Regions from separate parts of the Homo sapiens genome. Here region 1 is linked to region 2. Evidence: fine-mapped expression QTL. Tissue or cell type: whole blood. Region 2 holds a variant in brackets; the other region holds the start of a gene. All regions are shown on one strand. Distances are from middle to middle.

The links. PIP is the estimated chance that this variant, and not a neighbour inherited with it, causes the effect.
Region 1: NPAT starts here. The variant in region 2 is fine-mapped to the expression of NPAT in whole blood (TOPMed, PIP 0.94).

The regions. Positions count from the first base shown.
Region 1 is chr11:108,218,941-108,227,048 of GRCh38, reverse strand. NPAT (nuclear protein, coactivator of histone transcription) reads left to right here and starts at 4,411. Exons shown (of 18, transcript NM_002519.3): 1 at 4,411-4,549. The coding sequence starts at 4,513. ATM (ATM serine/threonine kinase) reads right to left here and starts at 3,982. Exons shown (of 63, transcript NM_000051.4): 1 at 3,863-3,982. RefSeq lists enhancers at 1,480-1,599, 3,096-3,145, 3,496-3,575, 3,886-4,045, 4,456-4,515 and 1 more.
Region 2 is chr11:108,336,209-108,344,316 of GRCh38, reverse strand. ATM (ATM serine/threonine kinase) reads right to left here. Exons shown (of 63, transcript NM_000051.4): 57 at 946-1,095. It also overlaps a transcript of C11orf65 not described here. Among named protein-coding and RNA genes, the nearest start is that of ATM, 120 kb to the right of the region's middle. RefSeq lists a silencer at 5,188-5,388. The variant A/G (reference allele first, on the strand shown) is at 4,786.

The sequences.
Region 1 (8,108 bases), 120 kb after region 2:
AGGAAGGCTCTGCGGGGCGGGAGATGGGGGAAGTATATTTACTTTTTATTACTCTGAGACCAAAGAAACATGACATTTAAATTGAGACATGAAAGATGAATAGAAAACAGCCAGGTAAATAAGGAAATGAGCACTCAAGGATTTAACATTGACAATGAACTATTTAAAAGCACTCTTGGCCAGGCGTGGTAGTGTGCTCTTGTAGTCCCAGCTACTCAGGAGGCTGAGGTAGGAGAATCGCTTGAACCCAGGAGGCAGAGGTTGCAGTGAGCGGAGATCGCGCCACTGCACTCCAGCCTGGTGACAGAGCAAGACTCCGTCTCAAAGAAAAAAAAAAAAGCACTCTTGCTTATATGGAGAGACATGTCATTTTGCTGAGCCAAAGGCTTAAAACATGCTTTGGAGCTGATAAGTAGGAGGTTATCAGAGCTAGTAAGCTTTGTCTACCACTTCCATCTCAACTGGTATTAAGGTTCTTATTTAACACATAACAATAGGAGTAAAATGACATTTCTGTTTTAAAAGGAAATGAAGCAAATTCTATGCTATGGTGGTATCCTTTGCAAATATCAAGGATCAACTATATTTTACTATGCCTTGATTCCACTGAGTAGCTCTCTTCTTTTGGGGGCTTCTGATATAATCAAACTCTCTTTTGATGTCCTTCAAAAAAATGTAGTAAGAACAGCATTTCAACATGGACACAAAGATGGGAAGAACAGAGACTGGGGACTGTTTGAGGGTTGGAAAGAAAGGGAGGTATGGCTTGAAGGGCTACCTATCAGGTACTATGCTCACTACCTGAGTGACAGGATCATTCGTACACCAAGCCTCAGCAACATGCAATTTACCCATGTAACAAACCCGCACATCTACCCACAGAACCTAAAGTAAAATAGAAAAGAAAAAAAAAGAAACAGCATTCTGTTTTACTAGTTCTGATCTAAACCTTTATATAATACAAAGAAGTTTTTTATTAAACTATGAATGTCTGTAAACAGAGAAAAAATACATATATTTATGTATATTATACCTACAAATAACTATATCTCAAGAAGTAAAAAGGTAGGGAAAGTCCTTCTCCTATCCATCCATCTAAATTCTACTTAATCTTTCAAGATTAAGTATGTTTCTCTGCCCCGATTCAATCTCACAGAATCTCAAAATTGGGAGGAACTAAAAGACCAGGTCCAATCTTCCTATGAAGGAAGGAATGTCTCTTACAAAATGAATGCCCTGTCTTTGAATATTCTCAGTAAGAGCTGACTACCGGGGCTAGGCGTGGTGGCTCATGCCTGTAATCCCAGCACTCTGGGAGGCCGAGGTGGGCGTTCCACGAGGTCAGGAGTTCGAGACCAGCCAGCCTGGCCAACATCGTGAAACCCCGTCTCTACTAAAAATACAAAAATTAACCAGGTGTGGTAGCATGTGCCTGCAATCCTAGCTACTGGGGAGACTGAGGTAGGAGACTCACTTGAACCCAGGAGGCGGAAAGTGCAGTTAGCTGAGATCACGCAATTGCACTCCAGCATGGGCGACAGAGCGAGACTGTCTCAAAACAAAACAAGACAAAAAAAACAAAAAGAGCTGACTACCCATTTTATTAGCAGATGGCTCTGATTCTCTTCTCCTTTTATATTCACTGGTGGTTCTTCTGACTTCCCCCATCCCCCAACACTATTACAACTTCCGCTTTACTCTGCTATAGATTACAGATTGTTATTTGAGTTCTTTTCATTTGATTATATACTTCCTGTGGACAAGTATTATCATTTTTGTTTTTCCATTCCTTATGGTTTTATCTAGGAATCTTCTTACTTCTTCAATCTCAGTTTAAAGCCCTCTTGAGTCAATAAGGAAAATGAAACTGGTAATCTAACCAATGAAAATACCTTAGCAATATCCAAAGAACCATAAGGTTTGGCACCTTTATTCCTAAATATACTAAAGATTTGACACTTCCCGGAAGAGGCAGCCCTAAACTTGACTTTTTTTTCCCCATGGTGTGACTTCCTTGAACTTGTTTTTCTTACCTTCAGCTTAATGATTACTTTGAAGAAAACAAAACAGTTCAGTATTATCTACATAAACAGAAGATGCTCATTCACTGATAGATGCAAACAATATTTACTACTTATAGCTAGACAAATAATGAACTAAACAGATACAAATCCTACCCTCATGAAGTCATATCTGGGCAGCAGGGTGACAATAAACAAGTAAATTGATAAACCAATGCATAATTCCAAATTGTGATGTATGCCTCTGAGGAAACAAAAACACAGTAATAGAAAATAACTGTAGAGAGAATCATTTTAGATAAACTGTCAGGGAACATATATCTCAGAGGAGTTTATAATAAAGCCAAGATCTGAACTAACTGGTGCCAATCAAAAAAAGGGCTAGAGGACCAACACTTCAGGGAAGGAGACTAGCATAGCCAAAGGGTTCTACAATGTTAAAGAACACAGTATGTTGGCGGAACTGAAAGAAGGCAGAGGAACTATTAGGTAGTCAACTAGAGTATGAGTGTCACCATATAAAGATGAACTTCATTTATACATTAATCCAGAATATCTAGGTTCCACTCAAGGTTCAAACGAAAAGATAAGGATTTCCTACTTCCTACGAGCCTCTGAATTGACGAATTCAGTGTTCCTTTTTAGATCTCAACCAAGTTGACCCCTTTGCACAACTTGACAATGACGCTTATATCCCATCTTCCTAGAAATAACTCTGCCCTTGGCATGCCATTCTTTTCTAGTGCTAAGGAGTGTGGCCTCTGTAGTCAGATTGTATTAGTTCAAATCCTGGTTCAGCCACTTACAAACTGTATAATCTAGAGCAAGTTCACTAATCTCTTCAAACCTCAGTTTCTCAATGATAAAAGGAAAAACAATACTAGTACCTACCTCTATGAGTCCCTTTAAGGACCCATATACATGCTTACAGTGCCTGAAACACAGCAAATGTTAGCAATGATCATATTAACTTCCGTTATGACTGTTTCGAAAGTCTCCTGATATCTCTTCTTCCGCTCATACCTCAAAAACAGCTTTGTTTTCTTGGTCTCATCCATTCCTATGACTTCAGCAGCTGAAAACCCACAAAATATATTTCATTCAATGCCAGGCCTCACGCTGGAGCTTCAGGGTCCTTCTACACTTTGTGCCTTTACACGCATTTTTCCTTCCATCTGGAAGGCTTCTACCATCTGCCAAGGTAACACTGCGAGGTCTCACCACAAACTGAATTGATAGTCTCAGGCTGAGTTTGCAGAGAACCAAAGTCACTCCTCTACCATCAGAGTACTCCCCTATCACCACATACATTATCATCCACTGTAGTTGTCTTATCTGTACCTGGTAAATACAGCAGCTAACGCTCACGAGTGCTCACCACAGGTCAAGATTATCTCACTTATCTTCACAAGACAGTAGAGAGCGGCCACACGACTGACAGAATTCCAATTCCAGCCGTATGATTCCAGAGCCCAAGCTCTTAACCGCGAGGCTGAAGTTGAAATATCAATAAATGCTCGCTGACTAAAAGTACTAAATACGAGAGAGAGATCAAAAGATGACTAGTCAAGTCGCGTAGTTAAATCTGAACCCTAAGGTGACACAAAAAGAGGATGCGCAGGAGGCAGGGTTCAATTCAGGGCGTTTAAAAGGAGGAGGTTATTGGCCAAGTCCGCTAAGCACCCGGAGAGAGGCCAGGAAAGATGGAGTGAGGAGAGGGAGGAGTCAAGGGCCACTCTGGAGGGGTGCATGAGATTGGCGGTCTGGGGAGAGGACAGACTGGGTCGCACACGACTGAATTTCCCAGCGCAGAAGCCGCTGCGTTGCCTCCGCGCCCCTACCACTGCACTCGGAAGGTCAAAGTAGTATCAACCGCGGCGGTGGCTGCAGCGCAGATCCCGACTCCTCTCGCCTCCTCCCGCGGCCACGGCTTCTTTTCTCCGTTAGCCACGCAGCTACCTACTCCCGCTTCCGGTTCAAACCCTGCGTGACTGCCCAGCGCCCACTTCTGGAGGAAGAAGCAACGCCAAGCAGCCGCAGAGCACGGTATGCCCATGCGCATCCAGTATCACGCGGTCTCCGCGCTCAAAACACTGCCCCAAAACATTCGGCCCGTCGGAGCAAACGCGCCTGCGCCATGTCCACCAATGGCCAGCGACTTAGCGTTTGCGGCTCGCCCTTCGGCTCGGGCTCCGGGGCTCTCACCCACCCTCTTCGCCCTCGTCGTCCTCCCCGCCCTCCTCATCCCCGCCCCTCCAAGTCTGAGGACGGAAGTGACGACAGTTCCGAAGGCGAACGGAGGCGGGTTTCATTTCGGCGCCTTTCTTTCTCTGGCGGAAGCGATTGGCTGCCGTGAAGCGAAAGAGGCGGGACAAATTGCCGCGAGTTCAGTGCCGCCACTGGAACCAGGAGATGCGGCGCAGGAGCTGTCGCTGTGTTTGCTTTAACCTGAGTCTTGTTCCTTATTGTGGTTCCTGCTGTGGTTTTGATCATGTTGTTACCCTCGGACGTAGCCCGGCTTGTATTGGGTAAGCGCGGACGCGGGATGGAGGGTTATTGGACCCGGCTATGCTGGACAGAAGGACCTTTGAGGCCAAAGGTTTTCCCTTGGTAGGGAAGCTTTGGGGTTTTGCCTCCCAGCTTACGAGTTGAGACTGGCGGTGATTCTTCGTCATTCGGAGGTTCTGGGCAGTTTAAGCCTCTTTGTATGTAGATGCTCCTCTCTTCAGAGGCTGCGTGGCGAGGGGAAGCCCGAGGGGAAGCTCGGGGTGGAACACCTGGGGCGGATTCGGAAGGAAAGTCAGGCCTCCACACTTAATTAGGACCCCTGAAAGAGCATTTGTCTGCATGACGGACGGATTGCGTGTGCTTCAACCTTGGGCGCAATTTCCTTGGTTCAGTGTTGGGACCAAAATAGGGCAAATAGGGAGTTCCCCGGCCCCCCATCTTTGTAGAGAGACCTTCCTGGCGCCCTTCTAATAACCCGCCCTTATAACTACGAATTTGGGAGTAGGGGTGATCTTCCTTCTCCATCCTCCACGCAATACGTCGTCCAGTGTAGAGGTGTGAAATGCCAGTTGCATATTTTAAAACAGCAATTCCTGTTCCTTTGATCAGCGAAAAATTTCAGAGGGTTAATTGCCTTAAATTAGTTGAACGTTTTCTAGCCCTAGTTTTACCTTCATTTGAGGAGGGATTGTTTGTGGGTCACTTGTCTGTCAGGGTGTATTGTCTGTGTGAGAGACGGGTTTTGTTGTTGTTTGTCCCCTGAAAGAATAAAGAGGATTGTACTACAGGGGACGAGAGCCAGGTAAAGCTCAAAACCCGAGCCAGTAATTTACGGACGTCGTATGCGACGTCCCTAAAAGTAAATGGCAAGCATCTGTGATGAAACCTCCCATAGTATTCACAGCCATTACTACTATTATTTTATTGTTCGGAAAACCCATTTGTCTTGTGCCTCTTTTAAATGCCCAGCGCTGTCCACAAAAATGTTATTTGCGCAGGGCTCTTGATAAGCACATTTTGCAGGAAACGTTAAACGGAAATGGTTCCACCATCCATTTTTGAAGAAACTTAATGACAAGTTTAATGTTTTGTTAATGTCTGATTAATCTTTTGCTTAAGAATTCTGAGTTTTGGCAGTTTGGTAATCTAGTTGAGTTTCGGTAACTATAGTCTTAAACATGGTTTCTCAGCCTCAGTACTGTTAACATTTTGGGCCTCATAATTCTTTATTGTGGGGAGCTATCCTGTGCTCAAACATTGTAGGATGTTTAGCAGCATTCCTGGCTTCTATTCACTAGATTACAGTAGGACACCCGTTCCCCACCCTACCCTTACCCAGTTGTGATCAGTGAAAATGTCTCTAGATATTGCTAGTATGTCCCCTGGAGGGCAGAATCACCCCTAGTTAAGAAAGCCCTAAGAAAGCAGTATCATTTTCTAATTGAAATAATTCACATCGATGTGTGAGTATTCTTTCTCCACAAACCAGCTACTCTGCTGACTTCCTGCTTTTCATTTAATGGACAAAAAACGCCAGCCATGGTTTTCTTATCTTAAAAATCTTTGTCATTCACATTCCATTTTCACTGCCACCAATCCCGCAATGTGCCTGCCATTACTTCTCTTTTGGACTTCTGTCATGGCTTCCCAGACAGTTGTCCTCGCAATTCATTTTATTTACTGTTGTTACAAATCTCCCTGAAGCTTTCACACTATACCTTTTAGTCTGAAAGTTGAGATAATTCTATTCTTACTAAAAATTTCAGATGGGCAGGAGTATACAATACAAAAAAGCCTCCCCATGCCTAATGCTCTTACTTTTGTCGTTTATCATTTTACATCTTAAATAGATACATATCGTGTATATCTTTCTCATATGAGGTTTATTATTTACTCATGATTCTTTTCCTATCAGTACCCCCTCGCCATCTTCAGCTCCTCTTGTTATTGGTCCCTTCATAATGTTTTTTTTCTAGCAAATCTTTGGGTGCCTAGTATGTTCCAAACACTGTGCCAATTGCTGAACATAGAGAAGTTAAGTTTTCTCCCCTTAGTGTTCAGATAATTAGGTTTTTTTTAAATTCTTAAACATACACACAAAAAAACACTTTTCTGGACCCCACTAGACATTAGACACCCATTAAACAGAACATTCTGTCTTATGTTCTGTGTCACCCTTTCACAAGTCAAATTTATTCAAAGAACAATGAATTCCACTTAGTTGCTGTTCTTCACCTACCTTTTATCCTTCAGGATACTGCACTCTGACTTTTGCATCTCACTACTCCACTTAAGTAGCCCTTATTGCCTTGCTGGGATTTTACAAAATGTTGTGTGGGCCAGAATACATCAAAGTGTTTGTTGCCTCTGGGCCATCAGTTCAGTTTTTATCTATTTATTCAAGGTGCTCTGTGGAACTGATCCTACCTACCTCTCCAACTTGATCTCAACTTCCTAACATCTGTTTTATGCTGCAGACATGCCAAACGAATTGAAGTTTCTTTGAAAATTCTTGTATGTATTCTACTTCTCTTTGTCTTCCTAGTACACTTCTATTCAAGGTTCAGGTCATGCCTGATCTCTGAAACTTCATTCAGCAAGTACAGTCAGTACTTCTTAAATGTTGCCATAGCATTGTACTTCTGTTACAACCTTATCATGTCTCATTGTAGATGTGTGTTTACTTTTTTTTGATAAAATATACTAACAAAATTCAACACTTAAAAATGTATAGTTCTTAAAGCCCAAAACAATGAGTTTGTTGTTGTTGTTGTTGTTGTTGTTGTTTGTTTTTAATGTACAGATCAGTAGTGTTAACTATATTGACATTTTTCTGCAACCATCACTACCATCAGTTTCTGGAACTTTTTCATCTTCCCAATTTGAAACTTACTTGGTTTTTTGTTTTATTAGTAGTCTTAGTCATGGATGAATGGACAAGCTTCAAGAGTTCTGGGAGTCCCCAAAACTATCATCTGTGAAGGTTTTCTTGAATAGATTTGTTACCTTCTGTATGAGACAGCATGCAGTAAAAAAAGTAGAAACCATTCTGAGTATTTAACATGGAAAGATTTAATGAGAGAATTCGTTTACACTGGTGAGAGAAAAGCTAAGACGCCCAGCAGCTTACAACTAAGGCATCTCAGTGGTTAGCAACAGTAGGAAGCCACTATGCTAATGAGAAGGATAAGGAGAGAGGAAGCAATCAAGAGGCTGGTTTGACTGCGGAACGTGGAAGACTTGTCTGATGAGGGAGTGGTAGTCTTAGAGGAGACTCTACTGAGGCAGAAAGGGAATGGGGGAAAAATATGGCTGCTTCCTCCTGCCCTCCAGCCTCCCACCAGTGCTTCCTATTTACTGAGCCCAGCCAGTAGCAGGCCGACAGAAGAGCTTGGGGAACATTGCCTATATAGAGTCAAGCTTTATGTCATACAGTAGAGAGCGACAGAAGGGTCAAGAACGTGTTTGAGGTCAAACAGGACCAAAACTGACACACCCCTAACAGGTCAAGAGCTGCTGGTTCTATTCACCTTTATATCACCAAAACATAGATATTTAATAAAACATTTGCAAAAGTAT
Region 2 (8,108 bases):
CAAAACTCGGCTCACACACCTTTTCCTCTGTGAAGCATTTCTTGGATCTACTTCTGTCTATTCTCCCCACCCCAGGCAGAACTAAGCACTTCCTCCTCCATACCTACACTGTACCCTGTGTGCCCTGTACAGACTTCCATCACAACACCTATAGCACTTATCACACATTTTAAAAAACATGTCACAGAAAGCACAATAAAATGAACAATAAATGGATTTTGGATTTAGACAAGGCTCAAATCCTTGCTCTGTTTATTAGCTCACTGGCCTTGGGCAAGTTCTCTGAACTTCTCATTTTAAAATGAGGATAAGGATTATGATGATTAGTCGTAATATTTGATATTTGTGAAGTCTTAAGTCAGCACAGTACCTGGTAGACAGAAAACATACAATAAATGTTGCTGATTCAGCGAATGAATATCAGACTAGATGGCCAATGTGACATTGTAAATGTCTCAGAAGGTTTTCTATATCAGTTTCATAAAAAATTACTTCATAATCTTGTTGTTGTTGTTGTTTACTGTGTTTGTTTTTTAGAGATGGGGTCTTGCTCTGTTGCCCAGGCTGGCCTCAAAATCCTGGGTTCAAGGGATCCCCCAGACTCAGCCTCTCAAGTAGCTGGGATTACAGGTGCATGCCATCGTGCCTGGCATTTTAGTGTTTTGTTTGCTAAGAATTAGTTTATCCCAAATTGAAAACAAATCAGCACACATTGAATAACCTTTACATTTCTTATCTGACAAGGGTTGACATATTATGTAGTTTAAAATCCTTCCTTTTTCACTCACACACTTTCATTCTGATGAGTTTTTCTTTTACTTAGTATCTTTGACAATTACCTGATGAAATTAAAGTTTTTTTGTATTCTATAATATCTGACAGCTGTCAGCTTTAATAAGCCATTAAATAATCTTACAATAACCTTTAATTTTGGGTGTCACTCACCATCATTTTCTTTTGGCACTGAAAGGCACTGAAATCATTTGGCCTGTATCTTTTATGAGCACCATCTTCATTGTTAACAAGAAATTCACCAATGGGGACAGTTCCTGTGCACCATTCAAGAACACCACTTCGCTGAGAGAGGGGAACCACCTGGAGTTACAGATTAAATACCTTTTAATTTTAAAAGGCCATTAAAGAGCATTTGATGATCATTCAGCTATCAGAGTCAGTGCAAAGCATTTTTTTTCAAGTTGTATTAATATTTCTCTGTCCATAGAAGACAAAGCTCCTTGGAGGAAACCAATCGGAAATAAACTTAAGCTCAAAGAATATAATTTTCCAGCCTGCTGCCTAGATGTTTGAGAGCCTGCCCATCACTCAATCCCCACGATTCTCTGAGAGGTCACTCCTGTTAACTATACTCACCGTCATCTGTCATTAATCCATACTTAGTTTGTCCAGTTAGGAGAGGAATTAACTGCTTTCCTTAAAATTTTAGTATCAATTAAATTTGGGGAGTTTCACTTGGAAATTATTACCCATGAATGTGGTCTCAATTTTAGTGTAACTTCATTATTGAAATTACATGTACTCTTGCTTTAGTCTTATTATCTTCACAGAGAGAAAATGTACTCCTAAATATAAAATAAGCAACTTTACTAGGAAAGTTTTTTAAAATTATATTATAAACATACATAAAGTATAGAAAATGATATTAACAGATACCCTTTTATCCATTAAACAGCTTTATCAAATCTAGGATTTTCTCACATTTGCTGGGGAAGAGATGAAGCTCCCCCTTGTGTGCTTCACTGACCCTAAGTCCCTCCCACCATCAAGATGACTGTTAGCTGGTTTATCATGTTCTTGTATTTTTTGGTATATTTTTATTTCAAAGCTATATGTACACAAATAGTTGTAAGTATTAAGTAAAAAAATTAGGATACTATATGTATATTTCTGTAATTTGGTTTTTTATTCAATACTATTTTATCCTAACTATGTGAGCATATTTAACTCTACATCATTCATTTTAACAGCTATATACTACATAAATACAACAGTTATCCAATCTGCATATTAACATTTACATTGTTTCCACATTTCCATGAAATACTGCTGCAATGAAATAAACTACTCGTGAACATATTTCAGTTTCTCTAGGCAGGGGTGTCCAATCTTTTGGATTCCCTGGGCCACACTGGAAGAATTGCCTTGGGCCACACATAAAATACACTAACACTAATGATTGCTGATGAGCTAAAAAAGAAAAAAAAACTGCAAAAAAAATCTCATAATGTTAAGAAAGTTTACAAATTTGTGTTGGGCTGCACTCAAAGCCATCCTGTAGGCTGCATGTGGCCTGCAGGCTGTGGGTTGGACAAGTCTGCTCTAGGGTATATACCCAGGAATTTAACAGCTGAGCCAGAGATACATCTTCACCTCGGTTAACCAGATATTGCCAAATAACTATTCAAAGTGACTGTACCGATTTATATACCCACCAGTAGAGTTATTCCATAACTTTCGCAATACTTAATATTGTCAGGCTTTTTATATTTTGCTAATCTGAGGGTAATAGTATTTCACTGTGGTTTTAATTTGTATTTTCCAGATTACTAGAAAAGTTGAATATCATTGTATTCTTCATATAAATCCCTTGTTCTTTATATTAAAATGATCCTTTTTGTTCTAATTAACATTATTATATTCGTTTTCTCAGCTGGTCACTCGTCCTTATGGTGTCTTTAGTTCTATACATTTTTAAATTTTAAGTTTCTCACATATGTTGAACTGTTTTGTGTCTTAAGGAAGCATTTGATTAATTTATTAACATTTATTTGTTGGGGGCGTATTACATGTTACACACAGGGCTAGGGCACTGAGAACAGAGTGGGAAAAAGGCAGATGAAGACTATGCCCTCATAAAGTTTCATTCTGGTGAGGAACATATATCCTAATAAACATTTCATAATATTAGATAATAAGTATAAGAGAACAAAACTTAAGTTTAAAAAAGAGAGAAAGTGGGTAATGGCAACATGGTCGGAGGCCTTTCTGAGGGTAACACTGCAGCAGAAGCCTGAATGAAGTAAGGGAGTGACTGGTGTGAAGATCTGAGGGAAAAGCATTGCAGGCAGAAGCAGAAAAGCCCTGAGGCAGAAACAAATTGGTGTGTCTAAGCAATTGCAAAAGACCAGGTAAGTCAGGTGGAGATGACTCATCTATACAAGCAGAAAGTGAGAGGAGTGTGAGGAGAGTGGTAGATAAGGCTGGAGGGAGAACAGCAGAGGCAGATCACTTAACTTAGAGAATTGTCATTCAGGGATAATGTGAACTCATGTGGGGTTCTGAACAGGAAAATGGAATACAGCTGGCCCTCTGCAGCTGCAGATTCAACCAACTGTGGATCAAAAATATTCACCAAAAAAACCTCAATAAAAACAATACAATAAAAAATAAAAATTTTAAAAACCAATACAGTACAACTATTTACACAGCATTTACACTATATAAGGTATTTTAAGTAACCCAGAGATGATTTACAGTACATGGGAGGAGGTTCATAGGTTATAGGCAAATGCTTCATACACCACTGTATATAAGGGACTTGATTTTAGTATCCACAGGGGGCTCTGGAAACAATCCCCCACAGATACCGAATAAGAGTACTCTGTCTTAGACAATTTTAAAAGGATCACTCTAACAGTTATTAATAAAACTAGCTTTGGAAAACCAAGAGCAGAAGTAAACTGTTGGTTTAAACTCTAGTATCTACAGAGATGTGACTGCAGAAGTAGGGTGGTAATAGCAGGGGTGGTAAAGTGACCTGCCTGGAAGTTGACCAATAGGACTTGCTGATGGAATAGACAAGACTTGAGAAGAGAGAAACAAGAGTTTAAAATGACTCCCATTACTTGGTGACATTTAGGAATTTTTGTGAATTGTTTTAGGAGTGATGACAGTATTGTGAGAATGGTTTTTTAAAACAGACATTATCTTACAGATCTACACACTGAAATGTTTACAGATGAAATGATATGACATCTTGCTTTAAAATAATATTGGAAGGAAGTTGGTGGAAAGAGAAATGGAACAAAATTGTCCATGAGTTGGTAACTGCTGAAACTGAGTGACAAGTACAAGGGGGTTCATGATGTTATTGTCTCCTTTTGTATGTTTGAAATTTTCCATAATAATAAAAGTAAAAAGAAAATAAAGCCTCTAGGTTTCAGTCTGAGCAACCAAGTGAAGGTGGTACCATCTCTAACAATACACTTTGCATTATAATTATGTTTATTATGTTTATTTTCCCTATTAGAATGTGAACACCTTAAGGACTAGGGCAATGTTTTACTACTTCTATAGACCTAGCACTCAGTAGAGTATCTAACCCAACGTAGGTATATAAATTCACATTTATTGAATAAACAAATGAATGATCTCATGGCCTTTCTGATTTCCCTTCCTGCCTAATAAGTATTCTACATGCCCTCTCCCCTGCTGTCTTTGAGTTAGCTGTGACCCCTGATGCTTGATCACATTAACATTCTTGCAGTGTAGTGTACTCTGTCTAAAGTCTCTTTTACATTGATTACTCTCTATCAATATCTAGCTCTGGGGCGGGGAGGGGGAATCAAACCCTTATTTTTTGTTGAGAGATTGATACAGAAAGGAATGGGTTGGCTTTTTTCTACCTCAGCTTAGAGTCTCAACTGTGATGTTGGTTGTTGGAGAAAGAGCTGAATTTGAATTTCAAAAAGCAAATGACAGTGTTTTCTCTGGTACTAAAGACTCTCTGGAAGATTTCAACTGGGTATCTGGGTATTTTGTGTGAAT[A/G]CCACAAAAAAGGACTGATGACTATTTTCTCAGTTCTCTGAAAGTACACAGCTGATATCATCCTAGATACACAGAAATGAAGTTAATTCATTATATTCAGTGAATGTCTTAAGATATTATGGCTTCTCTCCCCAGAACCATGACTGAGATAGATGCTCTGAAATATGCATGACAAGGAATAAAAATTATTTATTGGCACAAGGCAGGATGATCAGGTTAAGTGCAAAGCTCCTTTCAGCACTTAAATATTGTTTATTAGAGACTTGCCTTTTAGAAAACAAATCCTCTGACACCTAAGATTTTAGACTTGTTCAGTATACTTTGTAACAATGCATAGTTTTGGTGGAGAAAAATGGGGCCAGCCACCCTAATTCTGGTTAATGTTAAGGGCTATGTCTGAGCTATCAACATACACAATAAGAACTGTCTTCATTTCCATCTGATTCTCTCTGACAAGAGATATCTGGCATGCCTCAATATACAAGTCTCTCCTTTTGAGGTTGCACAATGACACAAGGTTTGTATACCAAGATCTAGTTCCAGGTAGTCAATGTATGCTCTTGTTGACACAATGACCACAGAAGACCTGAATCTCAGGATTGGGAATGACTCTACAGATGACTGGACTGGGTAGACTACTTCGCTGTAGTCTAGGGAACCTTAACTAAAGGCAAGAACACTTAGTTTAACATAATGATGACACAACTTTCACATTCTTGGAGTAATCTCAAAATAACATTACTGGCTTATTGTCGTAATTCTAAGAAATAGTCAAACCTAAACTGTTGTGTTTACAGGTTTTACTTTAATATTGAGATGTATAACATTAAATAATTAATTATCTGGGTTACCCCCCAACCCCACTTTTTTTTTTTTAAGACAAGTTCTTGCTCTGTTGTCCAGACTGGACTGCAGTGGCATGATCACAGCTCATGCACAGCCCCAAACTCCTGATTTCAAGCAATCCTCACGCTTTAGCTTCTTGAGTAGCTGGGACTATAGGTGCATGCCATCATGCCTGGCTAAATTTTTAATTTTTTGTAGAGATGAGGTCTTGCTGTGTTGCCCAGGTTGGTTTCAAACTCCTGGCCTCAAGTGATCCTCCTGCCTTGGCCTCTCAAAGTGCTGAGATTACAGGCATGAGCCACTGCATCTGGCCTCTAGACATTTTTCCTTTTTTGAGAAGAAGTCTCGGTCTGTCACCCAGGCTGGAGTGCAGTGGTGTGATCTCGGCTCAACTGCAACCTCTGCCATCCGGGTTTAAGTGATTCTCTCACCTCAGCCTCCCAAGTAGCTGAGACTAGAGGCATGTGCCACCACGCCTGGCTAATTTTTTTGTATTTTTAGTAGAGATGGGGTTTGGCCATGTTGGCCAGGCTGGTCTCAAACTCCTGGCCTCAAGTGATCCGCCCACCTCGGCCTCCTGAAGTACTGGGATTACAGGCGTGGGCCACCATGCCCGGCTAGAAATCTTAATGGAATAACTTATATGGTAAAATAGTTTTGTGTGAAAACTAGCTGTTGAAAAAGTCATAAGGTAGAGATGAAAGTTCAGTAATTTCTGCTTTCAAGATATTCTAGGTCAGGCATTTGCTTTTTTGTGCTTTACAGCAATGAACTTTGGAGGTTCAATTGTGTATCTGCTTGGAAATCTTAGCTACTTTCTGAGAGTTCAGGAGGTGCTCCTATAGCCCATACTTTTGTAACCCAATTCTTCACCTATTATCTTTGTCATCTAAAAGTTTGGTATTTAGAGCATAAACAATTTCCTTTCATTCACATTACAGAATATCTAGTCTCTAAAAACTTCTTAGCAATCTCTACATTATCTGTCAGATAGGAGATAGCTAATAGATCATCAACTTTGTTCTAAAATGAAGTCAGGTCAATAGATGGTAGAACAAGTAGACTGGTGGGTCTCAAAGTGTTGTCCCTGGACCAGTGCAGCATCAACATAACTGGTATCTTGCTAGAAACGCACATTCACAGGTTCTACCCTAATCTTGCTGAATTAGAAATTCTAAGAATGGGGATCAGAAATCTGTGTTTTTAACAAACTCTCTAAGTGACTATGATGTCTGCTAAAGCTTGAGTACCAATGATCTTAACCACATCAAAGAAATCCCTCTACAGAGTAGCCTTTATAGAGCAACTTTTGCTTTTTGCATTCATCGAGGATTAATTAGCTTTTTAAACTGCTAATGGAAAACATCTATTATGTTAGTTATTATTGCAGAAGGTTCCATGTCACAAATTTCTCACAAACTTGAAGGCTACGGAAAAAATTGTGCTTTCCTTAATGAACAGTATGCCCCTCTCCCAACCAATAAGTTTTATATTTAGTCTCTGAAAGCAGTTAAGAAGCTCAAAACCAAGTTCTGCTTTTTATTACAATAGCCTAACTCAAGCAGCATTTTGGAGGGTAGATCTAATTTATTCTTCTTCACTCCCCTATTTAGGGCTTTTAATTTAGCCATTATTTTAAAAATAAAACACGTTCATAGTGGAAAACTAGAAATATATAAAAAAGCACATGTCACCCATAGTCCCTGTTACAACATTTATAGAAGGAGAAAGTTTAAAAATGAGGTACAGGAATGAAATCACAAAAGACAAACCTATGGAAAATAGGCCCTTCAAAATAAGGATTTATTGTTATTTCTAAACTGGTTAAATGAATAATTAATATAAGAGTCAAAGATGATCAGCTCATAGAATGTGACTGAGGATTGTCTTCTCAGGCAAATAGCTAGAGGAAATGTAAGTGGGTACACTCCCATTGAGAGTAATTTGGCAATATGTACCAGATTACAGATGCATGTATCCTCTAACCCAGCAATCCAACTTTTGGAAATCCATGCTACAAATTTGCCTGCGCATGTATGAAATTTGTATGTTCAAGGTTATTCACTACAATACAGCGTTGTTTGTAGCAGCAAAAGACTGAAAACAACACAAATGCCCATCGATAAGGACTTGTATAAAAAACTACATACATACACACAATGCAGCTGTTAAAAAATGAGAAAGATTTCTGTGACATATTGTTGAGTAGAAAAAAAAGGAAAAAATACTTCAGTTGACTATAAGAAACACCTAACTATAATTAACATTAATAAATACTTTTTACAAAGAAAATAAATCTTTATTATTTGGTCCTTCACAGAAAACATTTGTAGACTCCTGGTCCAAATAATGGCATCTTCTTCTTCTTCTTCTTTTTTAAACGGGATCTTGCTGTGTTGCTCAGGCTGGACTGGGGCTCACTGCAGAGTTTGAGCTCACTGCAGCCTCAAACTCCTGGACTCAAGTGATCCTCCCAC